3 linked regions of the Homo sapiens genome follow. The protein of the gene in region 3 interacts with the protein of the main gene of each other region in a pairwise test. Each region holds a gene or a part of one and is shown on either strand. Other genes may lie near its edges.

Region 1 (7,025 bases), on a different chromosome or scaffold from region 3:
CTTCTTTTAGTGACCATGAGACATGCTAGGTCTCAAAATGAATTAAAAGAAAGTGTCAGACAGAATTCCAGGTCTTTAAAATGTTTACATACTACGAATCCTTGTAGTTGCATAAGCCGGGATCATGGAGTCCACAGTTAACTCAGGATGTAAAATGCAGCCATGTGTATAGGCATCCATTGGCAAGGAGTCAAGCAGCTCTCGGTAATGTTGTACCCGTGGGTAATACATGCTTTCTTTATCAGGCATTAACCTGGGTGTTCTTTCTAAAATACACACACACAAATATTGAAGAAAAAGTTACACATGAGTTGTTACACTCAAAAGCAAAACAAAAACACTATCCACTCATCATTAACATTTTCAACATATCTGTATATTCAAAAAACACTGTCTCCTCACCTCAGACATTCATTCAAAGTTTGAAATGGCCTGATGCACCAGACAAGATCCCAAACCATAATCACATTGGTATTCTCTCATTTCTTCACCTTGCAAACTGCACTCAGCCCTCAAGGCCCAGTTATTTATGCCATTTATTCCATGAAGCATTCCCTAACCTCCTACAACTGCCAACATCTGACTGGCTCACATGTGCCTTCTTCTATACATCCATAACACATTACACACACTCTGTTACAGCCCTTATCACACTGTAATTCATTGCATCTTTTTTCCCCATGACTGTCTTCAGGGAAAGGAACCTGCAATCCAGAGTCTAGCACAGTTCTCCACACACTTGAGGCCCTCAATAAAGTTTGGTTAATTGAATGAGGGCTCATTATGGAAAGATAATCAGGGGCTACTCTTTTCTAGGTGCCAACCAACATCAAGAGTGACCCTACTGACACATGTGAATGTGAATGACAATCTATATGGAACAGGAAAGGCCTTTGCTCAAATATCGCAGGTGCACTTTCCCCAGGAATTTCTAACAATTATCTCTGGAAAGTGGGTTCTACATACATCCTTATTTGCTAGTTAAAATCCAAACTGTAGAGTCCTTGAGGGCAGGGACCATGTACTGCTCTCTGTTAAATCCCCAGTGCCTAGTATAATGTTTGACATGTAGTAGGTGTTTAATAAATTACAATGAATACATTCCAAAATTTCCAATTATTATATAGATTACTTGAGCTGGAGAAGTGCTGCAGGAGTTAACATGTACACTCAGATACAAGGGCTGAAAATTTCTCCCAAGATCCCACAGCTAATTAGAGGCAGAGCTAGAACTAAAGTCATCTGATTCCTAATGTAATGTTCTCTTTGATTATACCATCATAACATTTTCAAAGGATTTTCATTTCATAGACTATCGAAAAAGAATAAAAGTGAAGGATGCAACCCAAAGGTCAGGGCTATGTCCCTTCAGAATCTCTTCCTATCTCTGGCTGTCAAACTGTCCCTAAAAAATGTCAGGTCTAATAACTATCACAATTTCAAAATATTAAGATATCTGCAATAACTTAACCATGAACATATCTGTGAGTTCTATTGGTTATCAAAGCCAGAAGCACTCCTGATATTGCCATGGATTGTGCCTACATTGCTAATGGAAGGAAATAATTCCTTTAAATAGAGATACAATTATTCCCTATCCAAGATCTCAAATCTCCTGAATTCTATTCATAAACCCCTAAGCGCAACAGTTCTCACACTATGGTCTGAGGATCCCTGGGTTTTCCTAAAACATGTTTGGGGGATCTACAAAGATATTTTTATAGAAATACTAAGACGTTAATTACTTTTTCACTCTTATTCTCTCTCAAGTGTACAGTAGAAGTTTCCAGAGGCTACAGGAAACATGACTCTATCACTCTGACAGCTAGTGGGATTGTGCTTAACCAGGCTAATATTTTAAGTTTTCTCAGTTTTGCTTTCTAAATGGTAAATATTGATAGCTATGATCCACATAAACAAATGCTCTCTGGTATCCTCAAAGACAAAGGGGTATAGAGACCAAAAAGTTTAAGAACTAATGCTTTAGGGGTCCAAGAACCTCAGGCTAATAACCCTAAATAGTACATTTTCAAATGCTTCCCAAAAGGTCCAAGTAATGGCTAGTGGCTCTGGCTGCTTTCTGGTACTGGGCCCTGGGGCTTCTCTCCAGAAGAGCATACCATTTCCTTCCTAGGAAAGTGAATGAGAGCAGGAAAAACAATGTCTAATTGCTTTCTGGGGAAGATCCATCAGGCCAAGCCCAAATTCTTCAAGGAGGACAAATGTTTAAATCCATGAAAATAATTTTCTTCTACTCAGTGTGCCGTTACTGTCTAACCATTTCCTGAAGCACTCTGTCAGAGCATGAGATACCCACTGAACCCAAGTTATCTCCCCATCTCTCTTTCTTTGTGCGCATCAAGCATGCCCTCTCCAGTATCACAGGGGCACTGCGCTGCCATCCTCACACTGAAGCACAACAGTATCTGCTGCTTCTGATAAAAGAGTTTTTCAAAGGAAAACTGGGAATTTCCTTTGAATTATAGAGGAGATCTTCCCTCTCAATCCCATCCTATTTTATTTTCCAGTTCTTCCGTAGAGTACCTTTATCAAAATACCAAAAGCAAGAATTTTTTTCTCAGTAATGTACCTCAATCAGGAGTGGGAAAGCAACATAAGGCATAGCGGGGCAGGACAGAGAATTAGGGAGTTTTAAGAAGCAGGCAATGAGAGGAGGTCCCAGCATTGGGGAGTGGGATTGCAACAGTGGAAATGAGGCTTGGTATTAAGCTAGAAGAACAAATAAGTTGGCACAAGATCCGACTTGCCGGAAGAACTGAGTAGGGGAAAAGTTTTATATTACACATAAATTTAGGCAGCAAATTATAAACCAGCAGATAGACATAAAGCAGAAAGATTTGATAAACAGCAGAGGAAACCAAAAGAAGCAAAAAATAAAATCAGAAAGAAACAATAAAAGCATTCTGCAGCCATGTAATGGAGACAAATGGGCCTCTACATTCTCAAGTCCCTGTAATGCTGAGTAAAATAACAATGGCTCTGAGCCATTTTTTTAAATTACATTTGGTTTTCCCAAGAGTAAAACATAAAAAGAAATTAGGGGCTTAAAGGCATAAGTTTTCATTATTTTACAAAATTCACTACTCTGGTTACCCATCTTTCCTAGTAAAGGCAGATAAAGGAGGCATTATTATGCCTTGTTTTCAAGAAAGACTCCCCTAGGTCTACTTGTACAACTTTCAAGTCTCCCTTACTACTAGCTCAATGGAAACAGATTAGATTTCATTCCTCACTCTAGCCCTTTGCTGTTTATTTTACTTAGACTGTATAGTGATTGCATCAGTATATAATATGCATAATACAGCTGAATAATATTGTACCCTTCAACTAGTCACACACTAGGCTATTTTTAAAAAATTCAATAATAGGCTGGGCACGGTGGCTCATGCCTGTAATCCCAGCACTTTGGGAGGCCAAGGCAGGCAGATCACGAGGTCAGGAGATCGAGAGACCATCCCGGCCAACATGGTGAAACCCCGTCTCTACTAAAATACAAAAAATTAGCCGGGCGTGGTGGTGCGCGCCTATAGTCCCAGCTACTCGGGAGGCTGAGGCAGGGGAATCGCTTGAACCCAGGAGGTGGAGGTTGCAGGGAGCCGAGATTGCGCCACTGCACTCCAGCCTGGTGACAGAGCGAGACTCCGTCTCAAAAAAAAAAAAAAAAATATATATATATATACACACACACAAACACACACACACACACACACACACACACACACTAAATAATATTAAACAATTAAGTTATGACCTGAGGCAAAAGATATGGTAGCAAACTGATTGATTACAATTCAGTGCTGTCATAACTCTTGAACTAGAAAGAGCAAATCTAAATACAGATAAGAAAAAAAACAAAAAGACCCGGTGTCAAATTATATCAGTTCACTGTATGCATCCAGGATTTTGAGACAAATTTATAGCATTATTGTCAATAAATTTTATGCACTATACATTAAATGTTTAACTACTTTTAACTGGTATTACAGTTAAGACTTTTAACAGAAACATTTTTAATGATGGAAGCAAAAATTCCTTTATCAGACAGTTTGTTCCAATTGTTAGATACATATTATATAGAAAGAGGGCCTCTGAATTTTAATACCCCCAACCTGTCTGCTAAAACTGGACAAATCACAAAGAGAAGAAAAGTTACTTTTTAAAGCAACTTTTACTGACACAATAATCAAAGACTGATATTCTTTTCCATGCCATATGGTATATTTTCTCCACATTTTGTGCTAATCTGCAATTTCAGTATATGTGCTAAAAGGCCTATATTCAACTATATACAAGAGCCTTTTCTTGATGAACACAAATATAAATATTAATTGGTAATTCCTTAAATAACTATTTTTAATATAACAGTGACATCAGAATTAACGTTCTTTTTTAAATGTTACATTTGATGAAATTCAAATGTAACATTTAAATGTATTTTATAAATAACATTGTATCTATAAATTTAGATATCCTAATAAGATTTACGTGATTTTAATATCATACTAGAATAGTTTATTTCCAAACTAAATTCTATTTCCTAAGAATAAATTATATATCTAGACATAAGACATGAACGTGATGTTCAGAGAACTGTTACATTAAATCACAAAAATCCATTATTCTTGATTCCAGGTTACCAGAGTTATTTGGTAGTAATACATATGTTCTAGTATTTTATAGTTATTCCATATAATTTTGATTAGTAGCCAAGTTAAATTTTATTTAAAGAGGTTATGAGTACAATAGATAGATTGAAAAATCCACATTTGTGTGTACATTCACCTTGTCACATCCATTCTTTCTCAGTTTACCTAGTTTGCTTACTCTCATACCTTATCTAGCTTAATCAATTGCTTGCTGTAAAATAACTATTCCTCACCACATGCTCAGAGTTAAAGAGGTATCATGTACATGAAAGAGTCTATAAAACTGTACAGTAATAGCAAGTATATATGTTAAGGACAGATTTGGAATTATCAGCAAACTTATAGAAAGAAATTATCTTTGAAGACTAGCAAGCTGCTAATGATTTCGGATCTTTAAAACATCTCTGAAGTATCCCAGGACCCTATACCAAATTAATACCCAATAAATGGTTACTTAAAGAATAAATGAAGAGATAGCTCTCGGCCAGCTCTTAGTTTGGCAGTCAGGAGCATCATTCATGTCTATACCATTCTTCTGTATGACTGCTTTCCAAAAAAAAATCAAATACAGCCATTATCCAACAGATATTCACTATTTCAGGCTATGACTTGAAAAGGGTGACCTCAGCTACCAAACTACCAATTATTTAATGAACTATCCCGAAAGTACAAGGATAGAAATATGTAAATGTAAACAAAAAAGTTGAAAAATGTTTCTAGATCAGCAAGTCATCGTTTTTCGCATAATCCCCACTGGATCGATAACAAGGGACAGCAAATAACAGTGAAGGACATACTGGTTCACTACATTCTGTTCTTTAGAGGAATGGCTACACTTACAGTCTCCTGTCATGACCATGGGCGACTGCACACCTCATGAAATCCATCCACTTATTCTATCTCATCAACATTCCTCAAAGTTACATCCATAATTGGACAAAATGTCAACTATTCCAAACAGCTCAGAATGCAGAGGGTTACAACTCACCCTGTTCTCAACAAAATTTACAGTTTTCAAAGAACCTGAAATCACACTAGCCATTTGTTTTAACATTGGTAACTTACTATCTATTAACCAGGTTCCCCATTCTTTTGGAATGCAGCTGGTTTTTTAAAACAAAAGTCTCATGCCTATTTTCCTCATAGCCATTTTACATTTAGCCTTGTTAAACTTTATCTTATTTTTCCATTTTGTTGTATTTCCATAAGAAATATTTTATAAGCTAGTCATCACTTTGACTATTTACCTTTTCTGTCATTCACAAATGTAATCGTATTTCTTCCATGTCTATTCAAATCATTGATTTGTTAGGCTCAAGTCAAAAAAGAAGCCTACAAGAACATTACAAGGGATCCCTGTACAGGCTAACATCTGTTTCAATAATTTATTCATTTTAATCATTCAAAATATTTATTAAGCACCTATTAAGAAACATTCACTGTATAAGGCATTGGGGATAATTTTTCATAAGATACACTATTCCCAACCTCATGGTACTTACAGTGGTGTACAATTCAAACATTTAAAATAAAGTATAAAAACAATTATAAGTAAAATGAGAGTCTATAGTTGAAGAGGTAATCTGGTATGAGAAATCTATAAAGTAATATTCTTTAATATGGTAGTTTATTCATCTGCAAATGTGCGTTACAATCTTCTAGCTATATTTGCTCCTTTATTCCACAAGGGTATATGTAACGTAATCGCAAATGTTCTACTTAAATCAAGATATACTATATCTAGAACCATGCCTGGCACATAATAGACAGTTTTTTAGAAGTGTTAGGGACATTCTCCAGCAGTGTAAAACTTAAATTGGTTCCTTTCACTGAGATACACAAAAATTTTAACATATTTAAATAACTATTCACAATCTATTCTAAATTTCCACCAGATTTAAAGACAGTAATTTACACCAGTGCTTACTTAACTAAACACTAATTTATAGCAGTATTCTCAAACTTTAATGTACATACGAATCACATGGGGCTCTTGTTAAAACAAAGATTCTAATTTGATAGGTCTGCAGAGAGCTCTAAGGTTCTGCAGTTCTAACAAGCTCCCAGGTGACACCAATGCTGCTGATGAATGGAACATACAATTAGTAGCAAGGGTTGGTAGAATTCACTTTTCCCCGTCTTTGACAATAGGATGTTTGTCTATCTTGTCTGACTTTCATTCTCCATGAGTTCTTAAAGATAAAGCATCTTAATTATAATTGTGATAACGCTGTTTTTAAAATTTCAGTACTCTGAGATAAACTTCTTCTTGACCTCGATTTATATAACTTAGCCTTGATTTATATAAACTATTGTTCTCTTGCTGTCGTCCTATCTACCATAAGTTTTGGGTCCCTT
Region 2 (7,761 bases), on a different chromosome or scaffold from region 3:
ACATTTAAAAGTTTATTCTGGCTGGGCGCAGTGGCTCACGCCTGTAAGCCCAGCACTTTGGGAGTCCGAGGCGGACAGATCACGAGGTCAGGAGATCGAGACCATCCTGGCTAATATGGTGAAACCCCGTCTCTACTAAAAATACAAAAAATTAGCCGGGCGTGGTGGTGGGCGCCTGTAGTCCCAGCTACTTGAGAGGCAGAGGCAGGAGAATGGCATGAGCCCGGGAGGCAGAGCTTGTATTGAGTGGAGATCATGCCACTGCACTCTAGCCTGGGCAACAGAGTGAGACTCTGTCTCAAAAAAAAAAAAAAAAAGTGTATTTCGCTGGGTGAGGTGGCTCAGGCCTGTAATCCCAGCATTTTGGGAGGCCGAGACAGGTGGATCACGAGGTCAGGAGATTGAGACCATCCTGGCTAACACGGAGAAACCCATCTCTACTAAAAATACAAAAAATAAGCCGGGTGTGGTAGCGGGCGCCTGTAGTCCCAGCTACTTGGGAGGCTGAGGCAGGAGAATGGCATGAACCCAGGAGGCGGAGCTTGCAGTGAGCCGAGATCGCACCACTGCACTCCAGCCTGGGCGACAGAACGAGACTCCGTCTCAAAAAAAAAAAAAAAAAAAAAAAGTTTATTCCACAAAGAGACACCACACCCACTAAAATGGCTATAATGAAAGACAGATAATAAGTGTTGGCAACCATGTGGCAACATTGGAACCCTCCATACTCTCCTGGTGGGGATGCAAAAAGGTGCAGTCCACTTTGGAAAACTGACAGTTCTTCAAAAGGTTAAACACTGTACTACCCTATGACCTAACAATTCCATGATTAGTCAAATATACAAGAGAAATGAAAACCTATGTCCGTAAGTTGTATGCAAATGTTCCCAGCAGCATTGTTCAAAATAGCCAAAAGTGGAAACAACTCAAATGTTCATAAACTGATAAATGGAGAAAAACATGTGGTCTGTCCATACATTGAAATATTATTTGGCAATAAAAAGAAGGACAGTCCTGATACTTGCTACAACATGGACGAACCTTGAAAACATTCTAAGCATAAGACAGGTATCAACACACAAGTGATATCTATTAAGAAAAAAAAAAAGCTGGGCGCAGTGGCTCACACCTGTAATCCCAGCACTTTGGGAGGCCGAGGCAGGCTGATCACCTGAGGTCGGGAGTTCGAGACCAGGCTAACCAACATGGAGAAACCCCGTCTCTACTAAAAATACAAAATTAGCCAGGAGTGGTGGTGCATACCTGTAATCCCAGATACTAGGGAGGCTGAGGCAGGAGAATTGCTTGAACCTGAGAGGCGGAGGTTGTGGTGAGCTGAGATTGTGCCATTGCACTCCAGCCTGGGTAACAAGAGCGAAACTCCATCTCAAAAAAAAAAAAAAAAAAGTTGGGTGGGGTGGCTCACACCTGTAATGCCAGCACTTAGAGAGGCTGAGGCAGGCAGATCGCTTGAGTCCAGGAGTTCGAGACCAACCTGGGCAATATGGTGAAAGCCTGTCTCTACCAAAAATACAAAAATTCGCCACCAGGTGTGGTGGTACGCACCTGTGGTCCCAGCTACTCAGGAGGCTGAGGTGGGAGAATTGCTTGAGCCCAGGAGGTAGAGGTTGCAGTGAGCTAAGATCACACCATTGCACTCCAGCCTGGGCAACAGGAGTGAAACTCTATCTCAAAAAAAAAAAAAAAAAAAAGCAGCCAGATACAAAGAACACATATTGTATGACTCCATTTATTTGAAATACCCTAGGCTGGATGCAGTGGTTCAGACCTGTAATCCCAGTACTTTGGGAGGCCAAATCAGGAGGATTGTTTGAGCCCAGGAGTTCCAGATCAGTTTTTTTTTGTTTTGTTTTGTTTTTTTTTTGATATGGAGTCTCACTCTGTCACCCAGGCTGAAGTGCAGTGGCGCGATCTTGGCTTATCACAAACTCCGCCTCCTGGGTTCAAGTGATTCTCCTGCCTCAGCCTCCCAAGTAGCTGGGATTACAGGCGCCCACTATTATACCTGGCTAATTTTTGTATTTTTTTAGTAGAGACGGGGTTTCACCATGTTGGCCAGGCTGGTCTCAAACTCCTGACCTCAGGTGATCTGCCTGCCTCTGCCTCCGCCTCCCAAAGTGCTGGGATTACAGGTGTGAGCCACTGTGCCCAGTCCCGAGATCAGTTTGGGCAACATAGTGAGACCCCATCGCTACAAATAATAAAAAATTAGCCAGGTATCGTGGCACACGTCTGTAGTCTCAACTCCTTGGGAGGCTGAGGTAGGAGGACTGCTTGCACCCAAAAGGTCGGGGCTACAGTGAGTCATGATCACGCTGCCACTGCACTCTAGCCTGGGTGACAGTGAGACCCTGTTTCCTAGAAAAAAAAAAAAGAAAAGTAAAAAGAAGAAATGCCCTCAACATGCTAAACATGTAAATCTATACAGTCAGAAAGCAGGTTAGTAGTGTTTGCCTAAGGCTGGAGGATGATTGGGAGAAAATGGTGAGTCTCTGCTAATTCATAAGGGGCTTATTTTGAGGGCAATGAAAATATTCTAAAATTAGGCTGGGTGCGGTGGCTCATGCCTGTAATCCCAGCACTTTGGGAGACCAAGGCGGGTGGAACACCTGAGGTCAGGAGTTCAAGAGCAGCCCGGCCAACATGGTGAAACCCCATCTCTATTAAAAACACACACAAAATTAGCCAGGCATGGTGGCGGGCACCTGTAGTTCTAGCTACTGGGGAGGATGAGGCAGGAGAACTGCTTGAACCCGGGAGGTGGAGGTTGCAGTGAGTGGAGATGGCGCCACTACACTTCAGCCTAGTCAATAGAAGGAGACTCCGTCTCAAAAACAAAATATAAAAAAAAGAAAATGAATCTTTTAAAACCACCAGATGGGCCGGGCATGGTGGCTTATGCCTGTAATCCCGGCACTTTGGAAGGCCGAGGGGGACGGATCTCCTCAGGTCAGGACTTTGAGACCAGTCTGGCCAACATGGTGAAACCCTGTCTCTACTAAAAATACAAAACTTAGCTGGGCGTGGTGGCAGCTACTCGGGAGGCTGAGGCAGGAGAATTGCTTGAACCTGGGAGGCAGAGGTTGCAGTGAGCTGAGATCACGCCATTGCACTCCAGCTTGGGTGACAAGAGTGAAACTCTATCTTAAAAACAAACAAACAAACAAAATCTCCACCAGATGCTTGGGCCGGGCGTGTGGCTCATGCCTGTAATCCCAACACTTTGGGAGGCTGAGGCTGGCAGATCACCATAGGTCAGGAGTTCAAGACTAGCCTGGCCAACATGGTGAAACCCCATCTCTACTAAAAATACAAAAAAAAAAAAAAAAAAAAAAAGAAAGCCGGGCGCGGTGGCTCATGCCTGTAATCCTGGCACTTTGGGAGGCCAGGGGGATGGATCACCTGAGGTCAGGAGTTTGAGACCAGCCTGGTCAACATGTTGAAGCCATCTCACTAAAAATACAAAACTTAGCTGGGCGTGGTGACATGTACCTGTAATCCCAGCTACTCGGGAGGCTGAGGCAGGAGAATTGCTTGAACCTGGGAGGCAGAGGTTGCAGTGTGCTGAGATCACGCCATTGCACTGCAGCTTGGGTGACAATAGTGAAACTCTGTCTCAAAAACAAAAAACAAAAAACAAAAACTCCACCAGATGCTTGGGCCGGGTGCAGTGGCTCATGCCTGTAATGCCAGCACTTTGGGAGGCTGAGGTGGGCGGATCACCTTAGGTTCGAGACCAGCCTGGCTGACAAGGTGAAACCTCGTCTCTACTAAAAACAAAAGTTAGCTGGGTGTGGTGGCATGCACCTGTAATCCCAGCTACTCAGGAGGCTGAGGCAGGAGAATCGTTTGAACCCGGGAGGCGGAGGTTGCAGTGAGCTGAGATCTTGCGACTGCCCTCTAGCCTGGGCAACAGAGTGAGACTCCGTCTCAAAACAAACAAACAAAAAGTAAATAGCTGGCATTACAACCATTCTTCTTACCTTTTTGTAGGTTGCAGGTTTTATATTTGAGCTCTTCATAATATTTTTCTTAAGGATATATTAATATAATGTATATTTTCCTATTTTTTCCTGCTATGTAAACACTGCTGTTTGGTCAGATGAAGGAGGGAGCCCTGCCCTAGGACAGGGGAGGGGAGGAGGAAGGCGACCTCAACCCAGGACCCCTGTTCACCCTGGGATCAGGCCCTCACCCAGGTAGCTCCTCTGTTTGAAAGCTCTAAGCCCTTCCACTGTCCTCTTCAGGGCTACCCCGCCACACAGCCTCTCCTTGTCTTGTCTTCCCTTTGGCGGGGTCACACCCGCACCTGGGTCACTGCCCCCTTCCTCTGGTCGAGGGTTGGGGGGAGTGTCCCCTCCTCCCTCGGCCGGAGTCACAGTTCCACACGCAGGGGTCCTTCCTGCCCCTCTCACCTGGGGTCACAACCCCCCTCCCTCGGAGGAGGGAGGTCACCGGCCACAGGCGGGGGCCTCAGTTTCCCACGCTACAGGGCTCACACGTGTCTGGCCTGCGACGCGCTCTCCCTTCGCCGGGGTCCCAGTTTCCCGCCCAGGAAACCTCGGTCCCTCCTCCGAGGCCGCCGGGCCCTCCTCCAGAGTCCCGCCAGTCCCCCAGAGTCCAGGCCAGTCCCCGCCGTCACCCGGTGCGAGCCCGCGAGAGGCCTAGTGCAGCTGGCAGCCCCGCCCCGGCACCCGCCTGCTCTTCTCGCGGGTCCGGACCGCGAGCGCGGGGGCCGACGGGTCGCCGCTGCGCCGGGCCGGGATGGCGGCCACCGCGCTGCTGGAGGCCGGCCTGGCGCGGGTGCTCTTCTACCCGACGCTGCTCTACACCCTGTTCCGCGGGAAGGTGCCGGGTCGGGCGCACCGGGACTGGTACCACCGCATCGACCCCACCGTGCTGCTGGGCGCGCTGCCGTTGCGGAGCTTGACGCGCCAGGTGAGCCGGGCCGGGGAGCCCGGGCCCCTGCCCCGTCCCCGCCGCTCCGTCCCTGTCGGGCCGCTGGGGTCTCCACCGTCTTTGCTGAGCCACCTCTTTGCCTCGGCAGCTGGTACAGGACGAGAACGTGCGCGGGGTGATCACCATGAACGAGGAGTACGAGACGAGGTTCCTGTGCAACTCTTCACAGGTGAGGGACCGGGCCGAGGGGCAGGCTCGGGGGCCCGCTCCCCCTCGCCCACCGCCCTGAGCCTGGGACGGCTAGAGAAGTGTGGGGGAGGTCACCATGCACCGGAGCCAGGTGTCTCAAGCTGCTTTGCCTCCGGTCTGTGCCTCTAAATGGCACCTGGAGGTAGGCTAGAAGCTGTGAAAGGCGTTTATTTAAAAGTTCAAGTTGGGCCGGGCGCGGGGACTCACGCCTGTAATCCCAGCACTTTGGGAGGCGGGAGGAGGAGGCGGGCAGATCACTTGAGCCCAGGAGTTCCTGACCAGCCTGGGCAACATGGCGAGGCCCCCGTCCCTACAAAAATACAAAAAGTAGCCGGGAGTGGTGGCGTGCGCCTGTACTCCCAGCTACTTGGGAGGCTAAGGCAGGAGAATCACTTTAGCCCGGGAGGTGGAGGTTGCAGTGAGCCGACATCTCGCCATTGCATTCCAGCCCAGCCTTGGGCGACAGGAGTGAAACAATGTCTCAAAAAAAAAAAAAAAAAAAGTGGAAGTTGACAAAGCCTGATTTCTCCTTTGTGAACAAATGTAATGTATTCTTATTTCGGTAACCAAAATCAGAAACTAAAATTGAAAGGCAACTTTCCCATGCCTTCCTGATTTCATTCATTCTTTCTATACTTTGAGCTCTGAGTATGGGTCAGCATTCCCAGTGTTAGGGATTCCAGATGAAGGCCCTGCCAACTGTAAGACGAAAAGCACCCCCTTAACACTCTCCCCTCCCCAGATTTTTCATAAAACTATCCATTGAAAACTGTAGAGTTCATTTGGCTCTGATTTGGGGGAATTTTTAGTCATATATTAGAAATCATGGTGGAACTCCAAAGTTCTCTCATAACAAAGTTTAGGCCTAAAACATAACTTTCATTAAATGTGACTGGCCTGTTTGTGGAATCTTCCACAATGGTTATTAGAAGATGTTATCTACAATCTGAGCTATTTGATTTTTTTTTAATGTTGCCCTATCTTTATAGCGTTTGGCATCTAATAGCACTAAACAATTATCTTTCTCATTTGTTTTACTGATATAGCATGATGAAGATACTATTATTTCAACCTGAGGATTTTTTTGAAACCTTGAAAATATTTGTGACTTGGCCAGGCGTGGTGGCTCTCACACCTGTAATCCCAGCACTTTGGGAGGCTGAGGTGGGTGGATCACCTGAGGTCAGGAGTTTGAGATCAGCCTGGCCAAAATGGTGAAACCCCGTCTGTACTAAAATCACACAAAAAAATTAGCCGGGCGTGGTGGCAGGCGCCTGTAATCCTAGCTACTTGGGAGGCTGAGGCAGGAGAATCGCTTGAACCCGGGAGGCAGAAGTTGCAGTGGGCCGAGATTGCACCACTGCACGCCAGCCTGGGCGACAGAGTGAGTCTCCGTCTCAAAAAAAAAAAAGAATTACTGATCTTCATTTAGAACCATAAAGTCTCTGATACTCATTATTAAGAGGTTAATAACAAGAGTAGCTGGAGCATATCTGAAGTCTTAAAGCATAAAGTTTGCCCAGTTGCCAGAGACCTTATTTCTATTTCTTTTCTTTTTTTTTTTTTTTTTTTGAGATGGAGTCTCACTCCCTTGCCCAGGCTGGAGTGCAATGGTGCAATCTCAGCTCACTGCAACCTCTGCCTCCCAGTTCAAGTGATTCTCCTGCCTCAGCCTCCCAAGTAGCTGGAATTACAGGTGCCTGCCAGCATGCCTGGCTAATTTTTGTATTTTTTATGGAGATAGGGTTTTGCCATGCTGGCCAAAGTCGTCTCGAACTCCTGACCTCAGGTGATCTGCCCACCTTGGCCTCTCAAAATCTGGGATTACAGGCGTGAGCCACCACACCTGGCCACCTATTTCTTCTAAGTGATAACATTGCACTAATGAAGGTCAGTGCATTGTTTTAATTTTATTTTTGTTTTTGTTTTTGAGACGGAGTCTTGCTCTGTCGCCTAGGCTGGAAGTGCAGTGGCACGATCTCGGCTCACTGCAAGCTCCGCCTCCTGGGTTCATGCCATTCTCCTGCCTCAGCCTCCCAAGTAGCTGGGACTACAGGCGCCTGCCACCATGCCCGGCTAATTTTTTTGTATTTTTAGTAGAGACGGGGTTTCACCGTGTTAGCCAGGATGGTCTAAATCTCCTGACCTCGTGATCCGCCCGCCTTGGCCTCCCAAAGTGCTGGGATTACAGGCATGAGCCACCATGCCCGGCCCATTGTTTTAATTTTAAAATGATAACCCTATTTTCTACCATATGTTCCCTCAAAAAACAGTGGTAAAAAAGAGACTTATGGACAGAGAAATAGAAAGCCTTGGCAAAATATTGTACCCCAAATCTGCAGCTGAATCACTACACAGGTGCCAAAATTATGCAAAAAAATTACACTGGCTGGGCCTGGTGGCTCATGCCTGTAATCCCAGCATTTTGGGAGGCTGAGACAGGAGGATGGCTTGAGGCTAGGAGATTGAGACCAGCCTGGGCAACATAGCGAGACCCCCATCTGCACACACACAAAAATAACAAAATTAGCCAGGCACAGTGGCATGCAGCTGTAGTCACAGCTACTTGGGAGGCTGAGGTGGGAGGACTGC
Region 3 (6,891 bases):
TTGTTTTTACTAACCCTGTTTTTAGACTCTCCCTTTCCTTTAATCACCTAGCCTTGTTTCCACCTGAATTGACTCTTCCTTAGCTAAGAGAGCCAGACAGACTCCATCTTGGCTCTTTCACTGGCAGCCCCGTCCTCAAGGACTTAACTTGTGCAAGCTGACTCCCAGCACATCCAAGAATGCAATTAACTGATAAGATACTGTGGCGAGCTATATCCGCAGTTCCCAGGAATTCGTCCGATTGATAATGCCCAAAGCCCCGCGTCCATCACCTTGTAATAGTCTTAAAGCCCCTGCACCTGGAACTGTTTACTTTCCTGTAACCATTTATCCTTTTAACTTTTTTGCCTACTTTACTTCAGTAAAATTGTTTTAACTAGACCCCCCCCCCACCCCATTCTAAACCAAAGTATAAAAGAAAATCTAGCCCCTTCTTCAAGGCCGAGAGAACTTTGAGTGTTAGCCGTCTTTTAGGCCCCAGCTAAATAAACAGACTCTTAATTCGTCTCAAAGTGTGGCGTTTTCTCTAACTCGCTCAAGTACAACACTTTCTAATCAGGCCTCATCAACCATGAAGGGCTGGAATTGTGTACAGGCAGGACCTCCAGCAAATCACAAAAGCAGAAGGAAATAGGGCCAGGCAGTTAAAAAAAAAATAGAAGATCAGGAGAATAAGAAGTCTGGTGCAGGGATTGGGGTGGGAATGCAGGCAAGGACTAGGGGGCAAAAACAAGCACAGCCACTGACACACCCCTGCCTGGCCTAATGAGGAAACTTCAAAATACCAGTCTGTGTAGGCCAGAGGTTGACTCCTACTTAAGCCCAGAGATGGCACTTGGGGGTCATGGCTGATGAATGGCAGTCAATGATAATAACAAACTACAACCACCCCTGCCTACCTTTAGATAAAGAGGCAAAAATAAGTAATTCCACAAGAGGCCTGGCTCAGCTTCACCAGATAAGCAAAAGGCAAGGGCAGGAGCTGCAAGACTGACAAGGAAGCCTGCACTCCAGCTTGGGGACCTACAGCAAAGCTGAGTCAAACGAGATTGCTTCTCAGGGACACAGGCACTCACATTTCACTGGAACAACGTGAAGATGTTAAGAGGCTAAGTAACAACAAAACCCTACCTGTTTTTACATAGCCAACGATCCCACCAGAAACAACCAGTGCTGTGTAGCCAAAGCCAAACCAATGCAAAGGCACTCTGAAAACACAAGAGAAGTCAGTGAGAAGTCAGTGCTAACCTGGATTTAAAAACAAACCATATTGTCATAGGATGGGGCTAAAAGGTAATCATTCCCCACAGGTCCTATGTGCCCACAGGTACTATCACTGAAAATAAGCACCACAGAGGTTGGATGACTTTCTGAGAGTCACACAACTAAGCAAAGCTAGAGCTGGGACTCAAACCCAAGTTTCTGGCCCACAGGTCCAGTGATCCTCCCATCCCGCACGCCATCCCAGGCAGTCTACTCTTAGGGTTCTTTTCAGCTGAGGAAAGGAACTCTGGTTTCCAGAAGCTCCTGGCTACTCTCTAACCATTTACTGTCTACTCACAATGGGAAGAGGGGCTTCTCCATTCTTCTCTTCTCAGTCCAGAAAGGAGACTACCCCAGGCCTGCATCTGGGGAAAACAAGCCGGATCAGCAGTGGTTAAAAGCACAGCTCCCCAGCAGTCAGAAAGAAGTGTGTCCAACCTGCAGGCTATGCAACCTAAGTCTCAGTATCCTTCACTGTACCATGAGGATAACACTGGTACCAATTTCCTGGGGGTGTTGTGAGCATTCAATGGATGTCACATGTAAAGGTGCTTAGCACCTAGTAAACCCTGAACAGATGCCGATCATTTCACATAGGTCCACAGGAAACTCAGCAAGATCCACTGACCAGCTCTATAATCAGGGAATGTGTTAGTCATTTCATTAAGCACTCACATTATCACTAAATCGGAAAGCAAATACTCCCGTGCCCTTAATCCAACTACTTTAATGTCTCTTTTGAGGGGTGGTAGGGATGTTGCTTTTCTTCACTGATGCAACAGCCAATTTCAATACTCAATTTTTTTTTTTAGAAACTTCTGCATCCAACTCACAGTTCTCGTTAGGAGGGCAGAAGGGGAGGGTAAAATACACGGAAACTCAAGTCAGAATCACATGTGACATTGCACCCTTGGAAAAACAGCTCCTATTTTCTTACAGAAAAGTATTCTGTATGCAGTGAACCTAACAAGATGGAAAGCAATGCATACGCCGTTTATTCTGTTTAAAGAATTAGGCCAGGCAAAGTGGCTCACGCCTGTAATCCCAGTACTTTGGGAGGCCCAGGCAGGCGGATTACCTGAGGTTAGGAGTTCGAGAACAGCTTGGTCAACATGGTGAAACCCATATTCTATTAAAACACACACACACACACACAAATCGGGCATGATGGCATGCACCTGTAATCCCAGCTACTTGGGAGGCTGAGGTGGGAGGATGGCTTGAGCCCAGGAGGCAGAGGCTGCAATAAGACATATTCAGGCTACTGCACTCCAGGCTGGGCGACACAGCGAGAACCCCTCCCCACCCCCCAAAAAAAGAAAGAATTAATTTCCCATAAAACGGGGAAGGGCAGCGGGCTTGGGATCTTGCCCACAGTTCTTAACTCGAGGCGGCACTGAGTAAGGGAGGCTTTTAAAGAGCTGGAGCAACAAAACCACCAGGAAACGAGGCAACACTATGCTACAAGGGTAAGCCTTTGCCTCAGGAGCTCAGGTGCTCCGAGCATCCACAGCCTCTTTTAAGACAAGCAGAAAATACCCAAGGAGAAAAGCACCGACCACACGGCATAAAGGCCCGCTGAATCGGGGGGACGAAAAGCAGACGGCCGTGAAACTCCTAAATAATCCCTAAAAGTTAAAAGTGGCAGAAAATAAAAACAATACTCTCCAAAGACCTGCACCGACCTGCCGAAGGCCCGCGGAGTCCACTACGGAGCGCAAGCCGCGGGACACAGCAGCCAGGTCTCTCCGGAAACGCGATTGCGTGCGCGCTGCGCCCCGGGGCCGCGGCAGGGCGGGGAGAAAGGCGGGACGTCGTGGCGCGTGCGCAGTGTCCTTGGAGAGAGGTGAGCGGAGAATGGGGACAGTGGGGGCGGGGCTTGAGCCGCGGATTACCAGCACGCGCCCTGCATCCCGGGGGCGGGGAGTGAGGCGGGGCATCGCGGCTAGCGCCGTTGGCGGGGAACCGGGCGGGGAATCTCTGTGCTTCCTCAGTCCCCAGGCCCAGCACCTGCAGGGCCGACCAGCTCCAGTCCCAGGTCCAATCCTGAGTGGCCAAAAGCCGGAAACCCGGAGTTGGAATTGGATCTTGCACAAGCTGGACCACGTAAGCTGGGCCAGGCCAGAGGTGGAGGCCACCGCTGCGGGAGGAGGGCATCTGATGATTTTGAAGGACCCCATTAATAGAGGGTATAAACCAGGTGCGGGCCATCAGGGAGGATTGTCACTCTGGCCCGATCTTGTTTGTTTACACCAGGAAGGGCCTGCCTTCCACCTGCAAGAAAATATGGCAGCTGCAGAATAATGTGGCGCAATGCCAAATATCCGTTTGTTTTAGGGAGTGAGGCTACTTGAGAAGCATCTTAAATGGGGAGAGAGAGCAAGTTAAATCTGATTTCCACGCAGCTCTGTGGATTCCGAATGTCCACAGTATGATGTTATCTCCATTCCCACTTCCGAGCCGCTCCTCTTCTGTGTTTCCTGCACCACCATTCGCTCAGTTGCTCTACACTAAAATTTGCTGTCATCGTTGACTTCTCCCTCTCCTTCATCCCCTACAAGTATCAACATAGACAACTCCGATCAATATAATCATCAGTGAATAAAGCAAATTGCAGCGCATATTCTTAAAGACAAACTTTCCACTTGCAGCAGCACCTACCTTCCAGATAGCTAAATTGAAGCCCGTGTTTATCATAGCTGCTTCTAACCAGCCAGAGCTGATAATAACTAAGAACTTGCAGGAATTGCAGTATGCCAGACCTTCAATTTAATTGAAGACTTTCCTGAACAATTAATGAGACTTGTCTTAACCAGCAGGGAATGGCTTTAGGGACTCATTCTTCCCTATGCAGGTGCAAGCCTCAAACCTTAATTAGGATCATCCACCATGATCCTCGAGCCCTTCCCCACCTTATACTTGAAGAGGCTGAACCTCAGAGAATTAAATTACCTACAGTCCTGGTCACTGGTAGAGCTATTATTTAAAGTAAGGTCTAATGTCAAAGCCTGCGTCCTTAATTCTACCATATGCTGCTTCTTGCAGTGTCGTTCCTCAACCAGAACACATAGCTCTTCTGTGTAGGTAAAGTCCATCAAAACATGTCATAAAATAAATTAAAGAAATTGGTTTCTGCTCTATTTCAATTAGTACCAGAGTAAAACAATCAATGATTTGTGTTTGGGAATATTTCTAGTTGGCATTAACGTTGTTAGGAGATAGCTTAGCTCTTCACTGGGGGCCCACTGAATTATCGGAACCCTGGAACACAAATGTGTCAAAAGGGTGTAATCAAAATTATGTCAGGGAATGTTAAGTTTCTAGTCTTTGGTCACTGAGGCCTATCAGTAGGTTTGGGTGTTTTGTTTTGTTTTTCCCACAAAGAGGCTTTGAGTAAGAATTGTGTCTGGTAGACAAACACAGGTACACACACAGGTGTGTACTCACACAGCAAGAGCAGTAGAGATCATCTCCCACAACACAAGAGCTCATGAAGAAAGGGAATTGAGCTTCAATGTAAGCATTAGTTTAGCATTTTTGGAGCCTGAATGTGTTGACTTTACAAATTAAGAAGTCCCTGAACAAAAACGTCAAAAACAAATCCCAAGTTGCAGTCTGCCCAGGTAATTCATGTCTATCAAGTGTCTACAATACCAATTTCTACATCTTTGGGAGTATTTTATAGGTTTGTTTGAAGAGCAAGGTCAATAACTCTTTCCCCAAGAAATAAATGAAATCATAAAAAAAAAACCGCCTATTTTCTTAACCTAACCTATCTGCCATCTACTTCTGGATCATATTCATTGGAGCCATAAAAATATTAGCAGAAGCATATGCAGTTCTTATTATCTGCCACTGTTGGAAGCGCTTTACATATGTTAACTAACTTACACTTCATACCAACTCTGTGCAGTGACGACTATGATTATCTCCTGCTTTACACATGGAAGAAATTGAGGCACAGACTACAAGGTCACACAGCAAATGGCAGAGCTGTCCTAACTCTGCATTTGTTTCTTGCAGTGAAGAGTCTTTTTTCTGTCTCTTAGTCTGTTCTCAACACAGTGACCAGAGCACTTGGGTTAGAAGTCTGACTGTGCCATTTCTCTCCCCAAAACCCTCTGGTGGCACCCCTTTTCTCAGGCAGTGCTTTGCAAAGCCCCACACATCCTCCTCCCTGACATCAGCATCTTCTCTTTCCCCCTCACTTGTGTTTCCTTCTTGCCCTCAGCTGCTTCATCTGCCTGGAACGCCTCCCCAGACAATCTCCTGGTTCACGCCCTCTCCTCCTTTCTGTCTTTACGCAAATGTCACTTCTCAGAGAGACCTTCCCTAATCACCTGATTTAAAACTTCAACTCATCTGCATTTCCCCCGACAGCATCTTTCCTTCCATGACAATTCCCTGCTAACCTGCTCTGTAACTGGCTTAATCATCGTAGAGCCTACCTCCCCCTTTTTTGCATGTTTGTTTCATGGGAGTGATGATATTTATGCAGCATTTAGCACAGTGCCTGGCCCATAACCAGTACTCAGTAAACATGTGTTGAATGGACAAGTAGATGTGGAGTGAGAAATGAGAGGGGTGGTCGGCAGACAGGAGAACAAAGGCCACATGTACAGTTTGCCCTGGCTGTACCCTGGCTCTGGTTCTTCCTGCCTTGGCCTCAGCCAGATACACCTGTGTCCTTCTCATGTACTTACCCCCACGTCCTCTGTTGAAGCTTAGGACATCCAGAGTTGCATTTGTTTCTTGCAGTGAAGAGTCTTTTAAAATCTGAAATAGGCTGTGAGCGGTGGCTCACGCCTGTAATCCCATCACTTTGGGAGGCTGAGGCACATGGATCACCTGAGGTCAGGAGTTCGAGACTAGCCTGGCCAACATGGTGAAACGCTGTCTCTACTAACAATACAAAAAAAAAAAAATAGCCGGGTGTGATGGTGCACGCCTGTAATCCCAGCTACTCAGGAGGCTGAGATGGAAGAATCGCTTGAACCTAGGAGGCAGAGGTTGTAGTAAGCCGAGATCACTCTACTGCACTCCAGCCTGGGTGACAGAGGGAGACTCCATTTCCAAAAAAAAGAAAAGAAAAATGAAAAATTGAGTTGACATCATGGGCCCTGTGTCATTCAAAAACTCAACATTTCACTAATCAGTCAAGCTGCCCATGACTGCCCCAGGCCATTGCATTCAATATGTTAATTTATTTACCAAAGCTGTGTCTTTCAGAAGGGTTGTGTTTTTCCTTTTAGCCCTCAGAATCTAGGATAGCACCTGGCACACATGGTGAGCACTCACTTCATGGCTGTCGGATAAACAATGGAGCAAGGAAGGTGGAGATGGATGCTTACACATGGGGAATTGTATCAGGAAGGAGTGTATGTGTGATTAAAACCTGTTCTACATAAATAGAAAAGTTGATCATTCAACACATGGACGGCTAAGACTATATGCAGACTATCCATTCTCAGGAAGAAAAGGGAAGCAATCTACCTGACTTCCCCAAATGGATTCCGTATTTTGATATGAATTGTTATCATGTGGGAAATGCGATGGCCTCCAGGTATACTACCTCAGAGATCAGTGAGCAGAAAAGCTCACAGATCAAATTAAAATGCTTGAATCTCT

What was found.
Region 1: the proteins of TMEM14B (region 3) and GDAP1 interact in binary tests that used the Homo sapiens proteins (3 or more experiments, as listed by UniProt).
Region 2: the proteins of TMEM14B (region 3) and PTPMT1 interact in binary tests that used the Homo sapiens proteins (3 or more experiments, as listed by UniProt).

The regions. Positions count from the first base shown.
Region 1 is NC_000008.11:74,353,378-74,360,402, reverse strand, and holds part of GDAP1 (ganglioside-induced differentiation-associated protein 1), read right to left. Parts: intron 267-7,025; coding exon 93-266; intron 1-92. UniProt on the Homo sapiens protein: Regulates the mitochondrial network by promoting mitochondrial fission.
Region 2 is NC_000011.10:47,560,838-47,568,598, forward strand, and holds the start of PTPMT1 (phosphatidylglycerophosphatase and protein-tyrosine phosphatase 1), read left to right. Parts: upstream 1-4,761; 5' UTR 4,762-4,785; coding exon 4,786-4,959; coding exon of another isoform or gene 4,960-5,068; coding exon 5,069-5,149; intron 5,150-7,761. UniProt on the Homo sapiens protein: Lipid phosphatase which dephosphorylates phosphatidylglycerophosphate (PGP) to phosphatidylglycerol (PG).
Region 3 is NC_000006.12:10,743,939-10,750,829, reverse strand, and holds the start of TMEM14B (transmembrane protein 14B), read right to left. Parts: upstream 3,026-6,891; 5' UTR 2,949-3,025; intron 1,629-2,948; coding exon of another isoform or gene 1,585-1,628; coding exon 1,562-1,584; intron 1,209-1,561; coding exon 1,132-1,208; intron 1-1,131. UniProt on the Homo sapiens protein: Primate-specific protein involved in cortical expansion and folding in the developing neocortex. May drive neural progenitor proliferation through nuclear translocation of IQGAP1, which in turn promotes G1/S cell cycle transitions.